Regions from separate parts of the Homo sapiens genome. Here region 2 is linked to region 1. A link means that fine-mapping ties the variant in region 1 to the expression of a gene that starts in the linked region. Tissue or cell type: thyroid. Region 1 holds a variant in brackets; the other region holds the start of a gene. All regions are shown on one strand. Distances are between the middles of the regions.

Evidence for each region. PIP is the estimated chance that this variant, and not a neighbour inherited with it, causes the effect.
Region 2: it holds the start of TPSG1, and the variant in region 1 is fine-mapped to the expression of TPSG1 in thyroid (GTEx, PIP above 0.99).

The regions. Positions count from the first base shown.
Region 1 is chr16:1,184,472-1,192,471 of GRCh38, reverse strand. All of the region lies in intron 2 of CACNA1H (calcium voltage-gated channel subunit alpha1 H), which reads right to left. Among named protein-coding and RNA genes, the nearest start is that of CACNA1H, 35 kb to the right of the region's middle. The variant A/C (reference allele first, on the strand shown) is at 3,597.
Region 2 is chr16:1,220,928-1,228,927 of GRCh38, reverse strand. It overlaps TPSG1 (tryptase gamma 1), which reads left to right and starts at 3,660. Exons shown (of 6, transcript NM_012467.4): 1 at 3,660-3,721; 2 at 4,300-4,326; 3 at 5,334-5,505; 4 at 6,011-6,276; 5 at 6,587-6,732; 6 at 6,832-7,277. The coding sequence starts at 3,676. The coding sequence ends at 7,140. It overlaps CACNA1H (calcium voltage-gated channel subunit alpha1 H), which reads right to left. Exons shown (of 35, transcript NM_021098.3): 35 at 7,160-8,000. The coding sequence ends at 7,934. TPSB2 (tryptase beta 2) reads left to right here. Exons shown (of 6, transcript NM_024164.6): 5 at 1-28; 6 at 114-592. The coding sequence ends at 278. LOC124903621 reads right to left here and starts at 3,677. Exons shown (of 2, transcript XM_047434997.1): 1 at 3,367-3,677; 2 at 1,688-2,474. The coding sequence starts at 3,677. The coding sequence ends at 1,688. RefSeq lists a silencer at 4,622-4,808.

The DNA of each region.
Region 1 (8,000 bases):
GGGCCAGCACCCCTGACCAGCCATCTCTAAGACTGTCCAGCCAGCAGAGTGGAGTGGATGGTGTCAGAGCCCAGGGCCCATCAGTGCCAGTCACCATGAAAGCTGCCCACGGCAGAGGGGCTGGCAGGGGTGGGTGGCACCCAGTGCCTAGCAACTCCTCAAAGACAGCTGACTAGGGGTCCCCAGGCCAGGGTCCTACCTGGACACCTTTGCCCCCTCTGCCATGCCACTGAGACCCACCCCAAGCCTTTGTGACTGGCAGCGAGGGAAGCCAGGAGGGGGCCTGGGTGCCCCTCCCCGACCTCTCGGACCGTCTGGTTTAGTGGGGGATGGGGTGCTGTCTTTTCCAAGCAGGGGTGTGGCTCCAGTGAGCCCCTCCCATCCAGGTGCATCCCCCTCCGCCAAAATCACACACACAGCAGAAGACCATAGAGGGGCAAGGTTGGGCCTGCAGGCACGCCAGCTGCAGACGGCCTCCCGAGCTAAGCCTGGCGACAATGGAACCCCAAATCTCCCGGACCTGCGGTGCTGCACAGGTGACGGCTCGCAGAGACCCCGAGTGTGCCTGAGGTCACACAGCCAGGCCAGCCTGCTGGGTCACCAAAACCCTGAGTGTGCCTGAGGCCACACAACCAGGCCAGCCTGCTGGGTCACCGAAACCCCGAGTGTGCCTGAGGCCACACAGCCAGGCCAGCCTGCTGGGTCAGAGACCCCGAGTGTGCCTGAGGCCACACAGCCAGGCCAGCCTACTGGGTCAGAGACCCCGAGTGTGCCTGAGGCCACACAGCCAGGCCAGCCTGCTGGGTCACCAAAACCCTGAGTGTGCCTGAGGCCACACAACCAGGCCAGCCTGCTGGGTCACCGAAACCCCGAGTGTGCCTGAGGCCACACAGCCAGGCCAGCCTGCTGGGTCAGAGACCCCGAGTGTGCCTGAGGCCACACAGCCAGGCCAGCCTACTGGGTCAGAGACCCCAAGTGTGCCTGAGGCCACACAGCCAGGCCAGCCTGCTGGGTCACCAAAACCCTGAGTGTGCCTGAGGCCACACAGCCAGGCCAGCCTGCTGGGTCACCGAAACCCCGAGTGTGCCTGAGGCCACACAGCCAGGCCAGCCTGCTGGGTCAGAGACCCCGAGTGTGCCGGAGGCCACACAGCCAGGCCAGCCTGCTGAGTAAGAGAGACCCCGAGTGTGCCTGAGGCCACACAGCCAGGCCAGCCTGCTGGGTCAGAGACCCCGAGTGTGCCTGAGGCCACACAGCCAGGCCAGCCTGCTGAGTAAGAGAGACCCCGAGTGTGCCTGAGGCCACACAGCCAGGCCAGCCTGCTGAGTCAGAGAGACCCCGAGTGTGCCTGAGGCCACACAGCCAGGCCAGCCTGCTGAGTCAGAGAGACCCCGAGTGTGCCTGAGGCCACACAGCCAGGCCAGCCTGCTGGGTCAGAGACCCCGAGTGTGCCTGAGGCCACACAGCCAGGGCAGCCTGCTGGGTCACCGAAACCCCGAGTGTGCCTGAGGCCACACAACCAGGCCAGCATGCTGGGTCAGCGAAACCCCGAGTGTGCCTGAGGCCACACAGCCAGGCCAGCCTGCTGGGTCAGAGAGACCCCGAGTGTGCCTGAGGCCACACAGCCAGGCCAGCCTGACGGGTCCCAGCTCTTGGGTCTGCAGGGCCCCTACCCATCGTAGATCCTCTGCCTCCCCTTCCCCCAGCACCCACCCAAAATTAGCCCCACAATCCCAGAGAGCTCCTCCAATGGCAAGGACCCCACCCCTGTGCCTGTGGGGCAGCTCTGGAGGGGACGGTGGTATAGCAGGGTCTGGGGGGCCCCAAGGAGGCCTCTCACGACAGAGGACGTGACAGGCAGGCGTATTGCGCGCCTCCCAACCGGGTCACACCCCAGCCACCAGCCCTCCCTGCCCTGGAGAGGGACTGCCAGATGTACCAGGTCCCAGTGCCCCCCTGGGGCTCTGCCTAGAGAGGGGAGCAGTCAGCCGAGGTCCCACATCCCGCACAGGCCAGCAGGGGCTCGGGCAGCTCTGGGCTGAGCAGGCTGGCCCTCATGTGTCACACTTCTGTGGGCAGCTGAGGACAGGCAGTGTCTGCCGGCTGTGTCGCACGGAGCCTGGTGACTTCTGGAGGCTTAATCATACAGATGGATTTTCTGGGTTTTAATTAAAAATTCCTTTAGATTTCAAATCAACTTCTATAAATTAGAATCAATTTCCACTGCGGGTCGGAGAAGCAGGCCAACGTAGCCGGGAACAGCCCTGGGAGGGGGCCTGCTGGCTGCAGGGCGGCAGAACGGTCAGGGAACCCAGCCAGGGAAGGGCCGGGCAGTGGCGCAGTGAGGTGGTCTTGGCTACGGGGTCTCCCTCAGGCAGGGAGCCTCCACCAGACCCTGAGGCCCAACCAGCAGCAATGCACCCACTCACCCTCCCTCCTTCATCTCCCTGGACCAAGCCCCAGGACCTCAGTGATTCTCCTCTTTTCTGACAGACCAAGGTTGTGGGGACCACATTGTCCTTCTCCAGCCCCTGGAGTCTGGCCTGGATGACATGTTCCCCAGGCAGCCCCCACTGGACTGGGCTCACGAGCCAGGGGCTCGTAACGATGAAAACCCCCCAGAGAGAGGCCTGAACAGGGGAACAGGGCTGAAGACCCCCTCGGTGGTGGGGCCCTGTCTGTTGAAATACTCCTCAGGCACAGTACCCATCCTGTCCCTCAGCCCCACACTCTATAATCAGTGCTCTCAGGCTGGGCCCGGTGGTTCACACCCATAATCCCAGCACTTTGGGAGGCTGAGGCAGGAGGATCATTTGGAACCCAGGAGTCTGAGACCAGCCTGGGCAACACAGTGAGACCCCATTGCTACAAAATATTTAACAAATATTTAACAAAAAAATTAAATTTTGGGGTGCGGTGGCAGCTACTCGGGGAGGCTGAAGTGGGAGGATCGCTTGACCCCAGGAGGTGGAAGCTACAGTGAGCCACGATCGTGCCACTGCACTCCAGGCTGGGTGACGGAGCAAGACCCCATATCAAAAAAAAAAAAAAAAAAAAAAAAAAAAAAAAAAAAAGGACACTCTTCAGGGCACCTGCCAGGTCCAGCACAGCCTGGCCACCTCCCCTTCCTCACATCTCCAAGCCTGTGCACTTCTGAGGGGCTGGGCAGGTGCTAAGCCCCCTTCCTACTCCTGAAGCCCTGCCAGGGGCTGGGCCTCCCCAGCTGGCACCCATGAAGAAAACCAGTCCCGCCCAGGACGCTTCAGGGACACCAGCTCCTCAGTCTCCGGGAGGAGAACAGCTTTTCTCACCCCTACAGGCTTCCTGTTGCACACCGCCACTTCCCTCGGGACCCTGGAACAAAGGCAGCCCCCCAGCCTCCTTTCTGCGGCAGTAAGCGCTCCCCTTCCCACATGGGCACCGCCTGTGGCCATGGTGGCTCACACCAAGGTCCACAGAAGCCCCTCAGCTCTCAGGACCTGGGGGGGCCCTCCAAGGGGCCCAGCTCCAGTGCACCGCAGATGCCAGCCCCTGGCGGGCCAGGAGGTGTGGACGCAGGGCGGGCAGTGCTGCAGCGGCTGCTGTCCATGGTGCTG[A/C]ATCAGCAGCCTCGCCTGGGCCTGTCCTGGATGTACCAGGGCTGGGAGGGCCGGGGTTAGGTGTGGGGGGACACATCCAGGAGGGGGCGAGGAAGCGGCCTCCTGGCCGGAAACACAGAGCTTCAGTGGAGCTGCTCCACTGACCCCCGTTTTCTCATCTGGGGGTAGTCGAGGAGGAAAAAGACTCCCAAACTGCTCTTCCCAGCTTGAAAGCGCATAGCTCTGAAGGCGCCGTTTTCTCCCGGCCCCTGGGCGCGGGCGTGGGCAGCCCCAGAGCCACTGACTGTTGTGTGGGGGGCAGCAAGGCCTGCATTCCCGCGGCTGGGTGAGGGGGAGTGTCTGCGAGTGGCGGGAACCCTGGCAGCTGCTATCTCTGCGCCGAAGATGCTGGAGACCTGGGATTCTTGGGGCCAGGAGCCAGTCTCAGGGCGGCTCAGCCAGTGTCGGGGCTGCCAGACCCCCAAACAGTGCCGACTGAGCCCTGAGGTGCTGTGGGACCCCTCTCCCCAGAGCCAGCGGTCTCCAGGGTCCTGGGTAGGGACAGGGGTTCCTCAGAAGCCCGTGTGCTGTGGGACCAGCGTGGCCCAAAGGGTGGTCCTGGACAACCCCAACCCGAAACATCAGCTAACATCCCAGGTAACATCAGCTCCCAGGACCGCCCAGACCCGCTGGCTCACGTATCCTGGGGCCAGGGCCTCCCCGACCCTGCCCCGTGACTAATCCTCAGGCCAGGGCCATGGGGCAAGAGCCTGACCCCAATTCTACCTCCACCTGTGCCTCCCCCTTTCTAAGCCTCAGCTTCCCCATCTGTACAAAAGGGCTATTTCATCTTTCTGGCGCTGACAGGTTTTATGCAGACCTTCCTGCAAAACAAGCCCCTCCATCTACTCTCCTGACTGACACGGCTCGGCCTGGCTCCTGCTGGCCCTGGAGGACACGTTCTCACCACACCAAGACCTCCACGTTTGCCGAAGGAAGGTCAGGACAGATGTTTCTACAGAGGGACGGAGGCGGGGCTGTGTGCCCCTCCTCAAGAGATAGTTAAGGCATCAAAGCCACAGGCCAGCCTCAGCTCCTCAGACCACCAGGGAGGGGACTGTAGCAGCGCTAGCCCAGCGAAGGGATGGACGTCTCCAGGTGCGGCTGCTGCCTGGCTCCTCCTCTATGGTCAGAGTGGCCCCCAAGCAGGGCTGTGGCCTCCAGGGATCCCAGCAGGGCTCCCTGCTCGGCTGCATCCTGACATCAGTGCCGGGGTGGCAGAGCTCTGCAGCTGGGAGGATCGGGAGGCTGGGCCGTTCCTGCCCCACCCGCTGTCCCCTAGAGCAATCTGCTCAGCCAGCTGAGCCCCATTAGGCCAAATCTGCAACAGCTGGGCACAAGCGGCCTGAGCCAGGGGCAGGGGTGTGGGCGGGAAAGGCACCCACAGCAGGAAGGAGAAGCCCAGAGCAAGGTGGGCCACAGCCCCCCACTCAGGACCCCATGCCTTGCAGGGCACAGACTGCAGCTGAGGTCACAGGCAACCAGGACTCTTAGCCACGTGCTCCCCTCTCTGTACCCACCCCTGGCTGGGCAAACCCCTCCCTGCCCTGGGTAGAGGGTGCCAAGGCTGAGGCCGCTCCCTCCCTGTCCGCTCTGCCCACGGCCCCACGCGGCGCTGGCCGCCTCCTCCCCTCCCGGCCCCTCATTCTCAGGAACGCTCAACCTTACTTTTCCAATTTGCTCAAGAAGACGACCTATGTGTATTCACCGGGGAAGCCCATTCCCACAGGCGCTATCAGCCCGCAGTGCGGAGGGGACGGTCGCGGGCTCTGAGGGACTCCATCGCCTCTGCCGCAGAGGAAGCAACAGCTTTGGTCCCACATCAAGAGACCCAGGAGGGGCCGGGCCAGCCGCAGACCCTGGGAGTCAGTGGGTGGTACAGGAGATCCCCGGGAACCAGCCCTGTGTCCGTGTCCACCCCCACTCAGAACCGCGGCAGCTCCAAAGGACCCTCGAGGCCACGGGAGTGGGACGGACCGCCCTGAAGTCTGCCGGTCATGGTGGTGGTCACGGCCCTGAGAACCAGGGCGCACTGCTTGTATACAGAAGAGCTAGAAGGGCAGAATATCTCCACTGCCGTGGCACATTCACCGGCCAGGAAGCATTACGTGGCCACCCGTTGAGGAGGCGGTGGTGCCACGGGCATCGGGACCGAGCCAGGTCCAGGGCACACGGGGCAGGAGGAGCGAGTCACGGAGGACACGTGACCACATTCACGACAGAAGCCACAGTGCAGGCCATCTCGAGGGGCATGTGTGTGGGCACGTGTGCAGAGGTACAGAGACGTTCCCAGGGAATCGCCGGAGGATGAGAACGCCGTGGAGAGGGACAAGACGAGGGCACTCAGGACGTGGGCAGAGTCCACAGTGACCCTTTGACGTTCACCCCACGCCGCGGCATCGTCCGGCTTTCTGCACGGCGAATCCAGGCCCTGCGTGTGCAATTACGAAAGCGAAACGTCCAGGAATCTGGGCCTGTGCGGTCACGGCAGGCTGGACCCCTGCCTTCAGGGCTCCCTGGGCCCAGCTTCTGAACAGCCCCACTGGGACACCTCGAGGGAGCCGCGCATTCTTATTCAAAACACCACTAAGGAAACAGGCTCTCCCCAAGCAGCCCTGGGAGGACCAGCACGGTACACCCTGGCCCTGCACACACCCCGCCTCCGGCCCCTACGCACGCCGACCGTCTAGTCACCCGCCCCGTACACACCCCGCCTCCGGCCCCTACGCACGCCGTCTACTCACCTGCCCCGTACACACCCCGCCTCCGGCCCCTACGCCGTCTACTCACCCGCCCCGTACACACCCCGCCTCCGGCCCCTACGCACGCCGTCTACTCACCTGCCCCGTACACACCCCGCCTCCGGCCCCTACGCACGCCGTCTACTCACCCGCCCCGTACACACCCCGCCTCCGGCCCCTACGCCGTCTACTCACCCGCCCCGTACACACCCCGCCTCCGGCCCCTACGCCGTCTACTCACCCGCCCCGTACACAGCCCCGCCTCCGGCCCCTACGCACGCCGACCGTCTACTCACCCGCCCCATACACACCCCGCCTCCGGCCCCTACGCACGCCGACCGTCTACTCACCTGCCCACGTACACACCCCGCCTCCGGCCCCTACGCACGCCGACCGTCTACTCACCCGCCCCGTACACACCCCGCCTCCGGCCCCTATGCATGCCGACCGTCTACTCGCCCGCCCCCCACGTACCCCGCCTCCGGCCCCTACGCACGCTGACCGTCTACTCACCCGCCATGGACCCCCGTGCCCCACTAGGCTTTCTGAGCATCTCCAGGGTTCCCCAGAAAAGCAGACTCGGCGGGGGGGGGGACTCTGCAGATGGCAGCGTCCATGTGGGAGTCTGGCTGCCGCTGGCAGGACCCACAGACACCGTCCAGGAGTCCAGCTGCCACCCGGGCACGTCTAAGCTCCGGATAACCGGTGGGTGAGGCTATGAACGCCAATCCTGCCTACACCAGGGACAAAGGAAACGGGCACTCACGACAGACGGGCCCACACGTGTCCACAGCGGCACTGACCCCGATGGCCTGTGATGGAAACAGCCCTGGTGTTCACCAACAGACCCGTGAACAAACGGAACGTGGTCTGGTCACACGCTGGAATATTACTCAGCCATGAAAAGGAAGAAAGCTCCACACGCCACAACACAGGTGAACCCGGGAACATGATGCTGGGAAGAACTGGGCACAGAAGGACCACATGTCACACGGAAAGTCCCGCACAGGCAAACCCAGAGACAAAGCGGGGTAGAGACCACCAGGGCTGGGCAGCGAGGGCTGATGGGGATGCGGTTTCCTTCTGGAGTGAGGGAAACATTCCAGAACTAGGCAGAGGTGATGGTTCAACAACACGAAGGTCGCTAACCCGTGCGCTTTAAAATCCGCTGGTCGTCACATAAACAAGTAAAAAAAAAATGGCTAATCCCATGGTACGTGAACCTCACTTCAGTCATCACCACAGCCTGCGTTCCCAGCTTTGCCTTTAAATGGCAGCTTCCCTTCGCTGGAGCCCCGCACCTGTCTGCAGTCGCCACTGAAGGCGCCCTTTGGACCAGGAATTGAGACCCGGCACATGGGCAGGCATAGGTTGGTGGGGGTGTCTCCTCCTCCTGCCACGTGGCCTCCACTCTCGCTGAGCAGAAGGCCCTCACATGCCCCAGACCCACCCGGCCACGTGACAACTCCTGGCACCCTCCAGCCCCTTGAGACCTGCCTTCCACCAGGGGGCCTGGATGCCTACGAGAGGGCAGGGATGCCTGGAGGCTGATGCGGCATCCGTGCCTCCTCCCAGGCTCACAGAGGATGAGGGTGAGGGCCGGGAAACGAGCAGCCCAGGCCGG
Region 2 (8,000 bases), 36 kb before region 1:
CGGGAACACCCGGAGGGACTCATGCCAGGTGGGCCCCGCCTGTCCCCCGCCCCCCGCCCCCCAACCCCCACTCCCAGGCCTGTTCGGCGAGCGCTGACCTCTGACCTTCCCAGGGCGACTCCGGAGGGCCCCTGGTGTGCAAGGTGAATGGCACCTGGCTGCAGGCGGGCGTGGTCAGCTGGGGCGAGGGCTGTGCCCAGCCCAACCGGCCTGGCATCTACACCCGTGTCACCTACTACTTGGACTGGATCCACCACTATGTCCCCAAAAAGCCGTGAGTCAGGCCTGGGGTGTCCACCTGGGTCACTGGAGAGCCAGCCCCTCCTGTTCAAAACACCACTGCTTCCTACCCAGGTGGCGACTGCCCCCCACACCTTCCCTGCCCCGTCCTGAGTGCCCCTTCCTGTCCTAAGCCCCCTGCTCTCTTCTGAGCCCCTTCCCCTGTCCTGAGGACCCTTCCCCATCCTGAGCCCCCTTCCCTGTCCTAAGCCTGACGCCTGCACCGGGCCCTCCGGCCCTCCCCTGCCCAGGCAGCTGGTGGTGGGCGCTAATCCTCCTGAGTGCTGGACCTCATTAAAGTGCATGGAAATCACTGGTGTGCATCGCTGTGTTTCTGGTTGTGGATGTCACTGGGAGAGAAGGGGTCCAGGTGTGCTGAGGACACCTGCCACAGTGTGAGGTCCTAGCCCTCAAGGCACAGCCAGTCACCGTGGGACGGGGCCTCCTGGGCAGCCCTGGTCCCCGAGGCTGGCTTCTCCCCACACGATGCATCCAGCATTCGGGTCACACAGAGCCACTCGGGCAACTCAGTTGATTATAAAGGACAGCCAGGTCCCTGCAACCGGGTCAAGACAGAGAATGGTCACCGGGAGCCCCAGGGCTGCCCATCACGAGCCCCTACCCCACGCTTCCCACGAGCTCTTCTCCCGGCCCCTCCGTCCACTGCTTGTGCTTTGCCTAGTTGTTTGCTTTGAGACGGGATCTCGCTGTGTCATCCAGGCTGAAGTGCAGTGGTGTGATCAGGGCTCACTGCAGCCTTAACTCCTGGGCTCAAGCGATCCTCCCATCTTGGCCTCCCATATAGCTGGGCCACAGGAGTGAGCCACCACGCCCAGTTAATTTTTGTATTTTCAGTAGAGATGGGGTTTCGCCATGTTGGCCAGTCTGGTCTCGAACTCCTGACCTCAAGTGATCCGCCCGCCTCGGCCTCCCAAAGTGCTGGGATGACAGGCGTGAGCCACCGCACCCGGCCTGAGTTTGACATTTTCAAATTCATTTTGAGGTCTTTCTCTACATCAATAGGTGAGCCCTCTGCGTCTGGCGAGTGTTGCATTTTATCCCGGGCTCTTGTTTGCATTTTATATTTGAACATGATTACACTCAGGAATGAAATGCGGGGCTGTTCTGGTTGAAAACAACTCTCTAAAGAAACATTCACTCTTTCCTTCCAACTGTTAGATGCAGAGATGTGCATTTAGTCTCCCGAATCTCTGCAAATGACCTCTGTCCTCACAAGGGGTGGACTCAACTCCCAGTGCCCTCTCCAGCCCCACGTGACCTCTGCCTCTGCAGCCCCTGAAGGCCCATCCCTCGGCTCCTGTTCTGCAGGCCCAGCGTCTTGTTAATGAAGATGGACCTGGAACTCGGGCCCTTCTTCCTCCCTCTGGCCCATCCCACCTTCTAGGGATCACAGAGACAGCACGGGGTGACCCCCAGGGAACACTGAGCCCCTAGAAGCACTTCCACACGCCCACTGGAGGTTTTGCGGGGTGGGAGTCGGAGGGATGAGACCCCGAAGGGAAGCAAGACGGCCCCTCAGGACAGGGCTGCCGGTGTAAGGAAAGGTGGACAGCAGGGGCCGGTCACTGGGTGGAGGGGGAGGGCGGGCTCCAGCCCCAGAGCTTCCCAAATTAGATCTAAGATCCCTGGGAAGCTCAGTGAAGCTCAGCCCAGTGACACTGGCAGATGTGAGCGTCAGCTTCAGCAGGAAGGGTCTCTCAGGACGTGGCAGGCAGGCTGCTGGCCAGGGCTGCAGCCACCTGCGTTTTGACTGGGACGGGGGCACCTGCTCCAAGGTCACCCACGTGGCTGCCGGCAGGAGGCCCTGGTTCCCCGTCACAGGGGGGTGTGAGGCGGAGGGCGAGTGGGGGGGACAGGGTTCCCACCGAGGGGACGGCACCCAGGTGGCCAGGCCACCGCAGACAGAAGCAATCCCAGGTCTCCCAGGGTCCTGGACAACAGGAGACCCCACCAAGCTGGGGGCAATCACCAGGGCCAGGCCCCCCTCCCGGTTCCTCAGTTGGCTCTCCTGTCCAATGGTGGGGGTGAACGGCACCATGTCACAGGACTGCTGGGGCTCAGGGGATGGTGCCTGAAGCTTCTTCCTCCCCAGCAGGCCTGCAATCTGGGTCGTGTGGAGCACTCTGCGGGGAGTGGCGTGCTGGGGCACAGGCAGAAAGACGGGGTCCCCAGTGCTGCAGGTGAATTGAGTTGGGACAGGTGAGGGCCCTGAAGTCCCCACCTGTGGGGACCTGGGGACAGCCCTAGAGGTCAGGACTAGAGGACCTGGTTCCATGAAGACCCTGCCCCTCAGGCTCCCTCCCCACTGGGTGACATCGCCCTGTTAGGGGCACCCTGGGCCGGGGACTCGTGGCTCAGACCCCGCTCCCTTGTGTGGGGTGGGACTGTCCTGCCTCCCCTGAGGCGCCCCCTCCAGGTGTGCGGCTGCCGTGAGGGAGGAGGGTGCCCGGCCGTGGGTGCACTGCTGGCCCCGCATGCTGGTGTTGTCCTTATTGGTCACCAGGAAAAACACTGAACCTCCAGTTCTGAGCCTTGGCTACCCCACGTGCTGGCGTGCAGGCGGCCACGTCTGTGCCTGGGAGGCCACATCCTGGTGGGTGGTCAGGCAACTCCCCCCAACCCGTGGCTGAGTTTCCCCACATCAAAGAGGGGATCCCTGACCTAGAAGGTCTCAGCTGGACCCTCCAGCCTGGCCTGTGATTTGGATCTGGGGAGGGCGGCAGGAAAGTCCCGGGCGCTGCCCAGGGCCCCTAATCAGCTGAGTCATCAGGCTGGGGCAGCCAGGACGGTTAGGAAGGGCCAACCCAGGCTGGGCCGTGAAGTGGTGCCCATCTGATCTGCCGCACGAGCACAGGACCTGCTGCCGGACGTGGGGACAGGGACTTCTCAAAGAGTGGTTGTCACGAGGGCCTGAGCTGTCTCCAAAGGGCTGCTGGGCCTTGAGTTGGGACCCTCCTGAAGAACCCCCAGGACTGGGCTCCCAGAGGATGAAGGAGAGGGGGTGGCGTGCCCCGAGGGAACCAGGGAGTAATTTTTGGAGGGGGCGGCACTCAGAGGAACACTCACCCCTCCCTCAGCCCTGGCCCCGGAGCAGAGACAAGGTGAGAAGTACTTTTGCCTTCTGTCCTTCCCCGCTTTCCCTTGACGGAGCCGGCCACTTGGTGCCAGGGCTGTGGCGTCCACACAGGGATAAATGGAGGTGACGACCCTTCTCTGAGGTGCAGAAGGAACAGGTGGGGCCGTCTGTGGAGCTCCGGCCTCCTCCTCCGTCCTCCCGCCCTGCCTGACAGCAGGTGTGTGGCCACCCCTATCCCCCACGCCCAGCAGGTCCAAGGGTCAGGCTGGCCCTCCTTCTCCCTACAGTGGGCAGACACCATGGCCCTTGGGGCCTGTGGCCTCCTGCTGCTCCTGGCTGTGCCCGGTGGGTGACCTGGCCTGGGTGTGGGGATGGGGGGGCATCTGCTTCCTGCCTGGACCCCTGATGGGGGTGAAACTGGGGGCTGGTCTGAGACGGAGAAACATGCTGAGTCCCCACCCTGTGGGGCCCCGTGTCTCCTCTGAAGAGACTGCACCCCTGGCTGGAGGCCCAGCTGTCCGTGCTGGGGAGAGGCAGGAGGGATGTGCGGGTGGGAGTTGGGGGTGCAGGAGTTGGCAGGGCGGGTGGTAGTTGGGGGTGCGGGTGGGAGTTGGGGGTGCCAGGAGTCCCAGGCCCTAGAACACTGGTGATTTCTTTCCTGAGCAGGACCTGGAGGGCGGGGAGGAGGCCCAGGCCTGAGGCCAAGCTCCCGGCCTCCAGCTGCCGTTTATGGCCTGTGGCTTGTCCCACCCAGCCCTGGGCCAGTGAGACAGCAGTTGACCCAGCCTCACCAGGCCGGGCCCCTCTGCTCAGGACCAGGCCCCACCCCAGTGCCGCCCTGAGGCCTGGCAGGGGCCTCTGGAGCCCGCACACCCCTCTCCTTGGCAGCCCCCTCCATCCTGGGCCCTTCGTCTTTCCCACAGGTGTGTCCCTCAGGACTTTGCAGCCAGGTACGTCTCTGACAGGTGTGGGGTGTGGGGGAGGGTGCAGGCAAGGCCTGGCAGGAGGGCCTCGGTGACCCTCTCCTTCCCTGGGGTCCCAATGGGGGCCCGGGGAGGTCATAGTTTGTCGCCGTGGTTTCTGCTCGCATCTCTCGGTTGAGTGGGGCTGGTCGGGGTGTGCTGCAGGGCTGTCTCCCCCACCACCACTGTAGTCAGTCTGTACCTTGGGAGATGCTCTGAGGCCATGAAACAACCTGGCCCTCCTCGAACTTTCTCCCCACAGCGTCCCCACCGTGGCCCTGGAACCAGCTGGGGGCTTTGCCGTGTGGGAGAGCCGGTGCCCCACCCCACACCCGCTGCCTATCTATAAACATCTCTGTCTGTCTACATCCCAGCTTCCCTTCCATTCAGCCCAGTGGCCACACTCCATCACCAGCACAATTATCCAGCTCAGGCAGACCCAGGTGTGGCCAGTGGGTCTCCAGCTGACTTCCTCTTAATTTCTTCTTAACTTACTGAGGTGAAGTTTACAGAAGATAAAGTTACATTATCAAGCGTCCAATTCAGAGGCCCCGAGCACCTTGGACAGTGCTGTCTGCCCCCCGCCCCCCGAATTTTATCCAGCTTCGAATATCTCCACCACCCCTGAAGGAAAACCGGGGCCCACTAGGCAGCCACCCCCAGCACCCCGGGCCTTCTCGGGGGCTCCACCGTTCTGAGCCCCTTTCTAGCCGCCTAGGGGCCCTCTGCAGCCTTTCCACCGCCTCCGGGAGCCCTGGTTAGTTTGTGGAGCATGGTGCTTAGAAAGGACGACCTGAGCCCCAGGCGCGCTCACTGCTCCTGAGACGTCATTTCTGCTGCACCCACGATGCTTCTGGGGAGAGTCTGGCAGACGAGAGAGCTGAAGAGCAAAGTCCCCAAGAAGGCAGGGAGGTGTGGTCAGGGAAGGCTTCATGGAGGAAGTGCAGTGGGTTTCTTGGGATCCCCACCAGGCACCCCTTCCTCCTTCGACTTAGGGTGTGGCCGGCCGCAGGTTTCGGATGCAGGCGGCCGGATCGTGGGGGGTCACGCTGCCCCGGCCGGCGCATGGCCATGGCAGGCCAGCCTCCGCCTGCGGAGGGTGCACGTGTGCGGCGGGTCACTGCTCAGCCCCCAGTGGGTGCTCACAGCTGCCCACTGCTTCTCCGGGTGAGTGTCCGGGTGGGCAGGGGCAGTCTCAATGTCCAGGCCCCAGTGGGGCATGCGCCAGCGCAGAGGCCTCCACTTGGTCTTGACTCACTCCGAGGCTTGGGAACTCTGAGCCTACTTCCTTCCAATGGAAAGGGAGGAGCTGGTTGCCCACCTTCTGTGAGGTTCTGCAGCTCTTTGCTCACCTCTAGGGATGGACAGCTCCCTCCCTCCTTCCCTCCCCTCGGTCTCTTCACGTGGAGCTGAGCTTGCAATCTGCCTCCTGACCAGCCCCTGCTGGTGTCGGGCATGCTGCTGGCTTTTCCAGGGGCTGGCAGGAACCCCAAGGTGCTGCCGTGGTCCTTGGGCCCTGCAGGGTGAGGCCACTGCCCAGGCTTTCTGCGTCCCAAGCCTAGGAGGGAAGAGCTGGGCTTCGGATGCCTGCAAGGGTAGGGTCTGGGCGGGGCCGACACTGACCTCCAGCCTCCGCAGCTGGCCCCTCTCACCCAGCCACCTTCCCTCCCAGGTCCCTGAACTCATCCGACTACCAGGTGCACCTGGGGGAACTGGAGATCACTCTGTCTCCCCACTTCTCCACCGTGAGGCAGATCATCCTGCACTCCAGCCCCTCAGGACAGCCGGGGACCAGCGGGGACATCGCCCTGGTGGAGCTCAGTGTCCCCGTGACCCTCTCCAGCCGGATCCTGCCCGTCTGCCTCCCGGAGGCCTCAGATGACTTCTGCCCTGGGATCCGGTGCTGGGTGACCGGCTGGGGCTATACGCGGGAGGGAGGTGAGGAGCCCCCGTGGGGATGCTGGGATGGAGGAAGGCAAGGGCGGCAGGAAGAGAGCTGGCTTGAGGGATGCTGATGCTACCACCTGCTCCTGGTGGCTTCCACACCCAGCCAAGGCCGCCCCTATCGGCTGTCCCTTTTCAAAGCCTGTCGTGTGGATCCAAAGCAGCAGCCAAACGTCAGATCACAACCCACGTGCCGTGACGAGGGTCGTGGTGGCATGGGACTTGTGTCTGGCAAGGTCTCCCATCCCCCCAGTGCAGGGCCTGGTGCCCCAACCTTCTCTGAAGCCTGTTCCCCCCACCCCAGAGCCTCTGCCACCCCCGTACAGCCTGCGGGAGGTGAAAGTCTCCGTGGTGGACACAGAGACCTGCCGCCGGGACTATCCCGGCCCCGGGGGCAGCATCCTTCAGCCCGACATGCTGTGTGCCCGGGGCCCCGGGGATGCCTGCCAGGTGAGCCTGCCAGGCCGTGACAGAGGATGGGGGCGGCTGAAGCCCAGGGAGGGGCTCCCCATCTTCTCGGCTCCCAATGCTCGCCTTCTCTGTCCTCAGGACGACTCCGGGGGGCCTCTGGTCTGCCAGGTGAACGGTGCCTGGGTGCAGGCTGGCACTGTGAGCTGGGGTGAGGGCTGCGGCCGCCCCAACAGGCCGGGAGTCTACACTCGTGTCCCTGCCTACGTGAACTGGATCCGCCGCCACATCACAGCATCAGGGGGCTCAGAGTCTGGGTACCCCAGGCTCCCCCTCCTGGCTGGCTTCTTCCTCCCCGGCCTCTTCCTTCTGCTAGTCTCCTGTGTCCTGCTGGCCAAGTGCCTGCTGCACCCATCTGCGGATGGTACTCCCTTCCCCGCCCCTGACTGATGGCAGGAATCCAAGTGCATTTCTTAAATAAGTTACTATTTATTCCGCTCCGCCCCCTCCCTCTCCCTTGAGAAGCTGAGTCTTCTGCATCAGATTATTGCAACATTTAACCTGAATTTAAAAGCACACGAAACAAAGGTGTCAATGGGAATCTCGCGGCCAACGCCCCCAGATGTAGGGGAGGCCTGATTCGCATCGGGGCCGGGCGCGTTACTCCATGGGGTCGGCCCCTTAGTGAGGTGTCACCTCTCCCAGAGTCACAGGACGCTTCTGGGAAGGCCCGAGCGGAACGGAAAGGGTGGTGGCTGGAAGGGGAGGGTGGTGAGGGCGTGACAGGCGGACAAGAACTCAGACTGTGAGTGAAGGTGACATTGGGCCGCGGTGGCTGCAACCTGCCGCCGGCAAGGGCACAGGGCCCCCAGCGAGTGTCCTGTAACAACGCGGGGCCTGAAAGGACGCAACCTGGTACCTTCCCCTCTCTGGCGGGTGCCCGGTCTTCGTCCCACAGACGCGGCTTCTCTCCTGACGGGAGGCTGACCCAGTTGCCCGCACAGCCTCGGCTGGTAGCAAAACTCGGAGAAACCCGAACCAGAACGGACGGAGGCTCGTGGGGCCCGGCAGCTACTCCTGCTTCGCTGGGCAGAGAACCAGGGCCTGGGCCGTCATCCTCCCCGGGCCTTTCTGCTCACGACGGGACCCAAGTCAGGGTCCATGCAGGGTTCTGCCTGGGCCTCCACCCCAGCGGGGCCCCCAGACCCCAGGGCCAAAGCCGTGGGCGGCACCAAGCCCCGAGCTACACGGGGTCATCTGCACCACCCCCTGGGGCAGGGGTGGCTGAGGGGGACCCTGGTTTCTCCAGA